3 linked regions of the Homo sapiens genome follow. The protein of the gene in region 3 interacts with the protein of the main gene of each other region in a biochemical or structural test. Each region holds a gene or a part of one and is shown on either strand. Other genes may lie near its edges.

What was found.
Region 1: the proteins of KLF1 (region 3) and FLI1 form a complex in vitro, tested with the Homo sapiens proteins (one study listed by BioGRID).
Region 2: the proteins of KLF1 (region 3) and SMARCC1 form a complex in vitro, tested with the Homo sapiens proteins (one study listed by BioGRID).

The regions. Positions count from the first base shown.
Region 1 is NC_000011.10:128,770,529-128,774,177, reverse strand, and holds part of FLI1 (Friend leukemia integration 1 transcription factor), read right to left. Parts: intron 1,397-3,649; coding exon 1,193-1,396; intron 1-1,192. UniProt on the Homo sapiens protein: Sequence-specific transcriptional activator. Recognizes the DNA sequence 5'-C[CA]GGAAGT-3'.
Region 2 is NC_000003.12:47,775,319-47,778,967, forward strand, and holds part of SMARCC1 (SWI/SNF complex subunit SMARCC1), read right to left. Parts: intron 1-3,649. UniProt on the Homo sapiens protein: Involved in transcriptional activation and repression of select genes by chromatin remodeling (alteration of DNA-nucleosome topology).
Region 3 is NC_000019.10:12,885,010-12,888,758, forward strand, and holds the start of KLF1 (Krueppel-like factor 1), read right to left. Parts: upstream 2,193-3,749; 5' UTR 2,132-2,192; coding exon 2,045-2,131; intron 1,134-2,044; coding exon 308-1,133; intron 52-307; coding exon 1-51. UniProt on the Homo sapiens protein: Transcription regulator of erythrocyte development that probably serves as a general switch factor during erythropoiesis. Is a dual regulator of fetal-to-adult globin switching.

The sequences.
Region 1 (3,649 bases), on a different chromosome or scaffold from region 3:
CGTGTTGCCCCTGCCCCATGAGGAACACTGTCGCTGAAGGGACAGTGGATTCCAAAGATGGGGAGTTAAAGGTCCACAGAACGATGGCGAGCAAACAGAGCTCACCAACCCAGAGCCAGCCAGTCCAGGAAAAGCAGGTCCCAGAGTTGCTGTCTAAGGATCTGAACTTGCGAAGGGGGCTTAAAATCATCAAGCCCCTGCCCAAAGCTAAACTCCTGCAAGACTCGCAGCTGCCTTGGCCATTCACAACAAATAGCATCTCAAGGCTGCCCTGTCTTTGCACAGGGCTGCTAGAATGCTCTTACGTAGTGTGAGCCCAAACCTGTGTTCCTGTGATCCTAGCACCATCTTTTCAGGCCCCAGGACAATCCTTCCATACTTAGGGGTAGCACTGATATTGATATACCACCTGGCCTGGATTCCCAGCAGGGCACTCAGGCTGAGGTTACCAGCAGGACTAAAATAATTCCATTCTTCTGCTCTGTGTATATTTCATATCAAATGAAATTCATATCAGACTGATGGGCGCTTGGTGCTAGAGTACCTCATACTAGATAAATCTCTTGGACAACTGCCTGCTTTCTTTCTTAAGCTCGCCCTTTCCAAAGCTCTTTTCCTTTTCTTGGCTGTACCAGAAGAAAGCCTCCAATGGATCCTAACACACCTGCACCTTTGGCTGCTCTTCCTTATCAAGGAAGTGTGCAGATAGCAGCCCTGTCAAATGGGGTTAGGGTGTGCCAGAGTATCCCAAGATTAAGAGGAAGCTAATATGTAAATTATTTTCAACACCTTAAATCCAAAAGCCTTGAATCTAGAGTTTCCTGGAGGAATTTTAAATAATCACTTAGGAAAACACCAGCCAGGGCACCACCCATCTCTATCTATTTTCAAATTGGAATAGTTTCTGGAAAGGCGGTCTCATGGGAAGAGTGTAACCAGCCTCTGCCAGACCCCTCCAGGTCACAGCTCTCTACTTTTCTCCATTTCTCGTCTTACTTCCTTTGACACTTCAGGATTGGGTCTGCCCCTCACAGGGTCTGTAGGAGCCCACGTGACCTTGGCAACACTACAGGCCCCACGATGCTGCTCCGGCGGCATCTGCCCAACACGAACGGGCAGCACTGACTTCCTCTCCCTGGGTTGGCTCCATGCCAAGCTTCCTCCCAGCCCTGGGTACTTGGGCGGCACTTACTTTCCCTGAGGTAACTGAGGTGTGACAACAGCACTTCCGTGTTGTAGAGGGTGGTGGCGCGGAGGAAGTCCTCCTTGTTCATTTTACACAGTTCCTTGCCATCCATGTTCTGGAAAAAGGATGTGTCGATCTCCATCAAGCTGTACTCCTTTATGGCCCACTCCAGCCATTGCCTCACATGCTCCTGTGTCCACAGTGTGGGGTCTGCAGAGGAGAAGACGTTGTTAGCAAGGACTGCAGGAAGGTAGAGGCTCCCTGAGAGCCTAGGCAGCCTCCCTCACCCCTTGTCCCTCTTTCTTTCCCTTCTCTTTCTCTCTGGGAGAGCTCCCTTCCACATGGTTCCCCTAGAACACTCATCAGGCTCCATGGCATCTGGCGCTGCCTGAACCACTTAGCACTCCAGGGAGGTGCTTAGCTGCCTCACTACGTATCCTGACAGAGCACTCTTTAAAGTTTTGGAGAGCAGTTGGAACCTTTGCCTGAGAAATGGTGGCATCAAAATGAAAATAAACACAATTTCACAGACCCCGGGACCAATGTCTCTGGAAACGGGAACCATCTGTATTTTAAGAATATTAATGATTTCATGAAAGAACACGGATCCCTCAGATGGCTGTAGAAAAGAAACAGAGAGACTTTTACTGCAATTCCATCTGTGCAGTTGAAAAACCCAGCGGTGTTAGTCTTGAACAGAAACCCAAACTAGATTTTTCTCCTTTTGAGCACAGCTGTGTAGAAATTTCTACCAGGGCATCCCCAAAACATATTTTAGATATTTAAATACCCAAAGATGAGAGATGACGTTGGGGAGAACATTTTAGCTCTTGAGTGAACACAGGTAAGGTAACCACTGAGGCCATCTCTATGGTAGGACACTCATACCTCCTCCTCCTTCTCAGTGTGTGTATGTGTGTGTGTGTGTGTGTGTGTGTGTGTGTGTGTGTGTGTGTGTGTGTGGTGGGGATGTTGCACTTTCAGCACAAGTGATGAGTTCCAGCAGGTTCCACAGTAGGCAGAACTCTTTTATCACTCATCACAGTCTGAAGCCCATCTCTTCACTTGGCAACCAATGGTTAGTGGGTCCAATAAACACCTTAAATATCCTTATCATAGAAGAAAATTACATGACGCTTGCCTTCAAGAAATACTCATTCCCATGAAACAGGTAGGCAAGCACACCACTACTAAGCAATGGACTGTGTGGCGGTGGTTCGAGGACTCATAAGTGGAAGGGAATAGTGAAAATTTGGAGAGTCAAGGAAGACTTCCTGGGGGAGGAGAGACTCGGCATTTTATTGTAAGTCGGCCATTAGCCTCCGGCTTCTAATGAGCCTGTTTGATTTAACATATTTATTAGGCAGGAATATCTGTGCTACCCCTCAAGCAACTCACCCTCTCATTCTACAGCGTCTGTGAAGGCTCCTGGCAAAGCAGGGAACCAGGATTGAATGACTAGGAGTGGATGTGGGGCAAGAAGCAAGGCTCACGCTTCACAGCTGGGCAGCCAGAGGCAAGTTTCCCAGCACTTTTACACAAGCATCCACCAACTGTCCTTGGACTCTCCATTCCACCTTGGTTTTTATGTGTGAGAATCTGGGTGGCAGGGCCCGAGTAGTCTGCTTTGTAAAGTGCCCAGGCCCTGCCCATGCACGAGAGTGGCTGCTGTGTTGTGCTGAAGGTGGAGGAGCTGGCAAAGGGGAGGAGTTAGGAGAGTTTGGGTTCACAGGTCACAGCCTGCTGCTGAATGTCATTCCAACAACCTAATGCCCTGTGAGCAGTGACGGCTCAGATGGTGGGTGCTATGTGCCACCTGCTCCGCGAGCCCTATTTTTACTTACCAAGGAAATCTTTTAATATCCCCATTTTACAGATGCAAAATGGAGTCTTAAAAGGTTAAGTCCTTTGCCCAAAGCCCCATCGCTGGTAAGTATCTGGGCTGGGGTTCCAATAGAAACCATTATAGGACTTCACTAAGCTGAAGAGGTGGGTTCCCCCAAAGCCCCTTTCCTCTTCTCACCATCCTGCTTTACCTCACCTGTGAGTTACACTGCTCTGAAGCCAGAAAGCGGAGCTCCTCTAAAGTGTCATTGTACAAGTATGTCTTCCTCTCTCTCTCTCAGATACATTTCTTGCTCTTTTACTCTCCAGAAGCAATTAGGCATGGATCATTGGCAAATGGAAATAATTTTGCACCTTTTCAGAATTCTAGAGAAACATATCCTCGGGAGAGTTGGATTATGTAGCATATTATTTCATTCTTCACTTCTCCCAGTTCCTCACTTTTAGTATCCAAGGCCTCAAATTCAATTTTACACCATATATTTTATTTATTTTATTATTTCCTCCCTTGCTTTGGGCTCTGCAACAATATTATTACTCTCCCTCTACAGCACAATGAATTATAAATCTTCAACTCTGGATCATGCTAAACTCTTCCAAATGCATTTCCTGGATGAT
Region 2 (3,649 bases), on a different chromosome or scaffold from region 3:
CCTGGCTAATTTTTTGTATTTTTAGTAGAGACGGGGTTTCACCATGTTAGTCAGGATGGTCTCGATCTCCTGACCTCGTGATTCGCCTGCCTCGGCCTCCCAAAGTGCTGGGATTACAGGTGTGAGCCACCGCGCCCAGCCCCGTAAATTTTTAATAAACGGTATTCAAGGGCCAGGCGCGGTGGTGGCTCACACCTGGAATCCCAGCACTTTGGGAGGCCGAGGCGGGCGAATCACGAGGTCAGGAGATCAAGACCAACCTGACTAAAGCAGTGAAACCCCGTCTCTACTAAAAATACAAAAACTAGCCGTGCATGGTGGCACTTGCCTGTAGTCCCAGCTACTCAGGCGGCTGAGGGAGGAGAATCGCTTGAACCCAGGAGGCGCAGGCTGTAGCGAACCCAGATCGCGATCGTGCCACCGCACTCCAGCCTGGGTGCACTCCAGCCTGGGTGACAGAGCGAGACTCACTCTCAAAAAATATAAAATAAAATAAACTTTGAAATAGACCTGCTATGTACCCACAAAAATTAAAAATTAAAACTCTGGCCGGATGCAGTGACTCATGCCTGTAATCCCAGCACTTTAGGAGGGCAAGGTGGACAGATCACTTGAGGTCAGGAGTTCAAGACCAGCCTGGCCAACATAGTGAAACCCCGTCTCTACTAAAAATACAAAAATGAGCCAGGCATGGTGGTGCATGCCTATAATCCCAGCTGCTTGGGAGGCTGAGGCAGGAGAATGGCTTGAATCCGGGAGGCGGAGGTTGCAGTGAGCCGAAAGTGCGCCACTGCACTCAAGCCTGGGTGACAAAGCGAGACTCCGTCTCAAACGAGAAAAAAAAAAATACTTCAAGTGTATCTTACAAAACTGACAAAATACATTGTACTTATCCGCAAGGTAACTTCATAATCTTTAATAAGCACAGGTTTCCTAAAGGAGTCATATAATGTACTGCACTTTTTTTGTACACGGTAAAGCAACATAAAAAAATAATGACCGGCTGTGCACGGAGGATCACACCCATAATCTCAGAACTTTGGGAGGCCGCGGCGGGTGGACCACTTGAGGTCAGGAGTTTGAGACGAGCCTGGCCAACATGGCCAAACTCCATCTCTACTAAAAAAATACAAAAACTACCCAGGCAGAGTGGCACACACCTGTAATTCCAGCTACTCAGGAGGCTGAGGCAGGAAAATTGCTTGAACCCAGGAGACAGAGGTTGCAGCAAGCCAAGAGCGTGCCACGCACTCCAGCCTGGGTGACCCAGTGAGACTGTCTCAAAAATAATAACTACAATCTGTATTTTACAGATTAACTAAACAATGCCAAACTCTATAGCTGAAAAAGACAATGTCCTTGAAAAAGGCTGTTCAGATGGAACCAAATCAACATTTCAGGTAAATATACATATATATGTAAACATATATGTAAATATATAGATGTAAATATATATATATTTTTTCTTTTTTTTAAACCGAGTTTTGATCTTGTTGCCCAGGCTGAAGTAAAATGGCGCGATCTCAGCTCAGCACAACCTCCGCCTCCCGGGTTCAAGCAATTCTCCTCCCTTAGCCTACCGAGTACCTGGGATTACAGGCATGCGTCACCACATCTGGCTAATTTTGTATTTTTAGTAGAGATGGGGTTTCTCCATGTTGGCCAGGCTGGTCTCGAACTCCCAACCTCAGATGATCCGCCTGCCTCGGTCTCCCAAAGTGCTGGGATTATAGGCGTGAGCCACTACACCTGGCCTCAGGTAAATATTTATTTTTTTTTTTTTGAGAGAGTCTTGCTCTGTCACCTAGGCTGGAGTGCAGTGGCGTAATCTCGGCTCACTTGCAGCCTCTGCCCACCGGGTTCCAGCGATTCTCCTGCCTCAGCCTCCTGGGTAGCTGGGATTACAGGCGCACGCCACCACGCCTGGCTAATTTTTGTATTTTTGGTAGAGACGGGGTTGCACCATGTTGGCCAGGCTGGTCTCAAACTCCCGACCTCAGGTGATCTGCCCGCCTTGGCCTCCCAAAGTGCTGGGATTACAGGCGTGAGACACCATGCCCGGCCTATATTTTTAATAACTACAGTGAATATAGGCCGGGTGCAGTGGCTCATGACTGTAATCCCAGTACTTTGGGAGGACGAGGTTAGAGGACTACTTTGAGTCCAGAAATTTGAGACCAGTCTGGGCAACACAGTAAGACCCTGTCTCTATTTATGTATTTATTTTTTGAGACACTTTCGCTCTGTAGCCTAGGCTGGAGTGCAATGGCCCGATCTCAGCTCACTACAACCTCCACCTCCCAGGTTTGAGTGATTCTCCTGCCTCAGTCTCCTGAGTAGCTGGGACTACAGTCATGTGCCACCACACCCGGCTAATTTTTGCATTTTTAGTAGAGCAGAAGTTTCACCACATTGGCCAGGCTGGTCTCGAACTCCTGACCTCAGGTGATCCACCGGCCTCGGTCTCCCAAGGTGCTGGGATTACAGGTGTGAGCCACAGCCCCCAGTCTCAGTCCAATTTTTAATAAACTATAAAATATTTAATTCTGATTAGATTTTTTTTCCAAATCATCCTACCAAATTACCAAACATGAAAATGCATGTAGGCCAGGCACAGTGGCTCATGCCTGTAATCCCAGTACTTTGGGAGGCTGAGGCTGGCGGATCACCTGAGGTCAGGAGTTCAAGCCCAGCCTGGCCAACATGGTGAAACCCCAGCTCTACTAAAAATAACAAAAATTAGCAGAGCGTGGTGGCGGGTGCCTGTAATCCCAGCTACTCAAGAGGCTGGGGTAGAAGAATCACTTCAACTTGGGAGGCCGAGGTCACACCACTGCACTCCAGCTTGGGCAGAAGAGCGAGACTCCATCTCAAAAAAAAAAAACAAAAAACAAAAAACAAAAAAAACACTGACTCCTAATTAAGAAATTTTAATTTCTATGTCATAAACAATTAATCTGGTTTTTTTTTGTTTTTGTTTTTTGTTTTGTTTTGTTTCGTTTTGTTTTGAGACAAGGTCTCGCTCTGTTGCCCAGGCTGGAGTGCAATGGTGCCAACACAGTTCACCGCAGCCTCGACCTCCTAGGCTCAAGTGATCCTCCAAGGACCCTGCCTCAGCCAAGTAGCTGGGACTACACGTGCATGCCACCACAACTGATGTATTTTTTTGTTTTGTTTTGTTTTGAGACAGGGTCTCATCATGTTGCCCAAGCTGGTCTCCAAATCCTGGGCTCAAATGAACCTCCCACCTGGAATTCCCAAGTGCTGGGATTACGGACGCAAGCCACTGCACCTGGCCCAATTAATCTTTTGATCAAAAAAAGTCTATTATATTTTATTTAAGAAAACAAAAATTTATTAGTCTCAAAATATTTCAAGTAAGAGTCAGTGTGGGCCAAGTGTGGTGGCTCACACTTGTAAGCCCTGCACTTTGGGAGGCTGAGGCAGGCAGAGAGCCCAGGAGTTCGAGACCAGCCTGGGCAACACTGCAAAACCCTGCCTCTACTGATAATACAAAAAATTAACCAGGTGTGGTGGTTCGTGCCTGTAGTCCCAGGTACTCAGGAGGCTGAGGTGGGAGAATCACCTGAGCCCAGGAGGTTGAGGCTGCAGTGTGCTATGATCTCACCACTGCACTCCAGCCTGGGCA
Region 3 (3,749 bases):
GCGCGAATCTCCAGCCGCAGCCTTCCCACGTGCAGGCGTATGGCTTCTCCCCTAGGGGACAAGGAAGCCATAAGCGCCACTGTCTGCCCAGTCATGTCCCCGGGTCCCCTGCATCTGGCCACACCCCTTTACTCAGCCTGGGCTGGGACTAGGATGAACAAAGTGAGGCCCCTAGGGCACAAAATTTAAGGAGGCACTCACTCTCAGAGGCCAGCCAAGTCCAAGTCCCGCCCTCTGCAACCCTTCTTCCCCTGTAACTACAGCGGGCGCCGCGCCCTTTCTCATGTCCGGGGCCCCGCCCCCTCACCTGTGTGCGTGCGCAGATGCGCCTTCAGGTGGGAGCTCTTGGTGTAGCTCTTGCCGCAACCCGGGTGCGCGCACGTGTGCGCTGCCTGCCTCTTGCGCGCCCACGAACGTCGGCCTCGCTTGGATGGCGCGGTCTCGGCTATCACACCTGGATCCTCTGCAGTCCCCCCGAGTCCAGTGCCCACCGTCCCGGGTCCCAAACAACTCAGGAAGGAGGGGGACGTGGCGGGACCGGGCGCGGGTCCCTGGAGCCCGCGGAAGAGCTGGAAGTGCCCTTGGTACTGAGGCGCCGGGTACATCGCGGGGTACCCGGACAGTAGCCCGTAGGGGGCGCCCGACGCCGCAGGCACTGAAAGCCCGGTCCGCGGGAAGTAGCCACCCGAGGAGCCGGCGCCGGGCCCCGGGTACACCGGTTGCAGCGCCAGCGCCTTGGGCTCGGGGGCCGGGGCTGGAGCCAGGGCTGGGCCCACGAAGGCGTCGGGAGCCCGGGCTCGCAGGGCAGGGCGCACCCAACCCGAGTGATCCTCCGAACCCAAAAGCCCAGCCACCAGCCCCGGGCCGCCAGCATATGCGCCCAGAGTCTCGGGCGGCGGCGGATATTGCGCCCCGGAGGCCTCGCTGGGCGCCAGAGCGCAGGTCTGGGGCGCGCCACCGGGCTCCGGGCCCGAGAAGTTGGTGAGGAGGAGATCCAGGTCCCAGGTGGCGTCCGCGCCCCTCTCATCGTCCTCTTCCTCCCCGGGCTGGTCCTCAGACTTCACGTGGAGGGGCGGCTCCGTGGGGTCAGGAGGACCCGGGCCCATGTCCTGCGCCTCTTCGGAGCGCCACCACTGCGGGAGGGAGCAGGCAGCTCGAGGTTCGGTGGACACTGGGGTGCCCTGCCCAGGGACATCGCGGGCTGGACACTCTGACGCAGAGGCTTTGGAAAGGGGTCTTGTTTGCCTGTCTGTCTGTCCCACTTCCCCAACACTGCCCCTCTAACCGCCCCTCTCCCCGCTCCCCCCCCAGCTCCAGGGACAGAAACCGATCAGGTCTGGCTGGAGACAGGAGATAAGACTTCCACTATCTGGAACCACACTCGGGGATGGGGGAAGGGGTAGCAGAGCTGCTGGAGATGGAAAACTGGCAGGGGACGGGGGAGAGGATGCCAGCCTTGACTTAGTTTTCCCCCAGAACATCCCTCTCCTTCCCTGTCTCCCAAAACAAGATTAATTCCGAAATTTTGGATGTCCCCCAGACACACTCATCATTTCCCGCTGATATCTGGAAGATTGTCTGTGAGCCTAGATCTCGTTCCTTTTTTTTTTTTTTTTTCTTGAGATAGGGTCTTACTCTTTTGCCCAGGCTGGAGTGCAGTGGTGCAGCTCACTGTATCCTTAATCTCCTGGGCTCTAATGATCCTCCTGCATCAGCCTACGGAGTACCTGGGACTACAGGCACACGCCCCCATGCCTGGCCTAATGTTTTTGGTATTTTTTGTAGAGATAGGGTTTCACCATGTTGCCCAGGCTACCTTCGTTTTCTATTACCGAAATAGATCACACTTAGAACCTCAAACCCCTAGACCACCCTCCTCACCCCCTGCCAGACTAAGCTGAGATCTCCTCTCCTGGACTGAGCGTACCTCAGTCCTGGTTAAGTCTCTTGATTTCAGGTCAAGATGCAGGTCTGGACCCCAAGATCTGTGACTGTGGCCCTGGATTCCAGCCAGCCCACCTAGACCCCACCTTCTAGGCCCCACCTTGAGGAAGTCATCCTGTGTGTCCGGGAAGGGGCCCAGGGCGGTCAGTGTGCTGATGGAGGGCAAGGCGGTCTCGGCTGTGGCCATGGCTGGCTGGTGCCCACCCTGGGCCTCAAGCCTCCTCTTCCTCGGCTGCCTCGTGAACTCTGAGGCTGTGATAGCCCCTTCGAGGGCTCCTCTCTGTCCTTAGCTGATTGGCTGCAGCCTCTGATAAGGCAAAGCAAGGCAAGGCGGCGGGGGGGCACTGTTTCTGGGGCACAAACTTCACGTTGGCCTGTCTGGGGCTGGGGTTAAAGACTAACCCTGTGTCCAAAGCCAAGTCAAATATCAAGGGTTGGGGGGTTCAGGGTTTGAGGGTCCAGGTGCTGGGTAAAAACAGACATTGGGTCTCCAAAGAAGGAGAGACTTGGGGGTCTTCCCTCAGTTAACTTTCCTGGAAAAGGCAGAAAGGGTATTCTGGGAAGAAGCTGTGGGACCCCCTGTCCCCCTGATTGAGGCTCCACAGCCCTCCCCCTCCCCAGTAAACAGCAACAACCGTGCTGATGGCGGGACTTGGCACGAGCTCCCCGCCAAGCATTATCAGACACCCCAGACGTTGGAGGCTGCTATCAGGTGGGGGCCCAGGCCAGCTAGAGCTCTGTCCTCCGGTGAAGGGGAGGGCTGGGAGTTGGGTCTTCAAATTAGCCTGGCGTTCAATTTGCCTGGGTTGGGACCTCCCAGGGTCTCAGCCCTGCAGCAGGAGGAAGCCCCTGACAACTGGCCCACCATTGTCTACTGGGGACCCTTGGGTGGCACTGCATGGGACTGCATGGAGGCTGGTTCAGTGCCAGCTGCTTTAGTGCGATGGGGGCAGCCAAGGGAAAAGTGACCCTCTCTCCTCCTGGGTGGGATAGGACCGTTGGATCAAGCCACAGGCAGTACCTGACCTGCAGGAGACCAGTGCCCTGGCTCTGGGCCTGGCTGCTCCTTGATTCTGCCCAACATGAGGAGAGGATCTGAGTTTCTACAACAGGAACCTCCACTCTGGTGCCCTGGGAGCCTGGGAAGGGGACATGGATACGTATTACAGACACATAACTCATAGTCACTCATTGGAAGACTGAGGCAGGAGGATCACTTGACACCAGGATTTCAAGACCAGCCTGGGCAACATAAAACCTATCTCTCCAACAAAAAGCTGTGAGTGGTGGTGCATGCCCATAGTCCCAGCTACTCAGGAGGCTGAGGTGGGAGGATTGCCTGAGCCCAGGAGGTCGGGACTGCACTGAACTATAATCACACCACTGCAGTCCAGCCTGGGGCACAGAAAGCAAGACTCTGTCGCTGGAAAAAAAAAAAAGTTGGGTGGCCATCTTTATTCCTGGCAGATCAACCTGGGTGACACAAACAAAAACAAGGCCAGGTGCGGTGGTTCACACCTGTAACCCCAGCACTTTGGGAAGCCAAGGTGGGGAGATCACTTGAGGTCAGGAGTTCGAGACCAGACTGGCCAACAGGATGAAGCCCTCTCTCTGCTAAAAATACAAAAATTAGCTGGGCATTGTGGCACATGCTTGTAATCCCAGCTATTTGGGAGGCTGAGCTGGAGAACTGGTTGAAACTTGGAGGCATGGGGCCAGGCGCAGTAGCTCACGCTAGTAATCCCAGCACTTTGGGAGGCCGAGGCAGGCAGATCACCTGAGGCCAGGAGTTCGAGACAAACCTG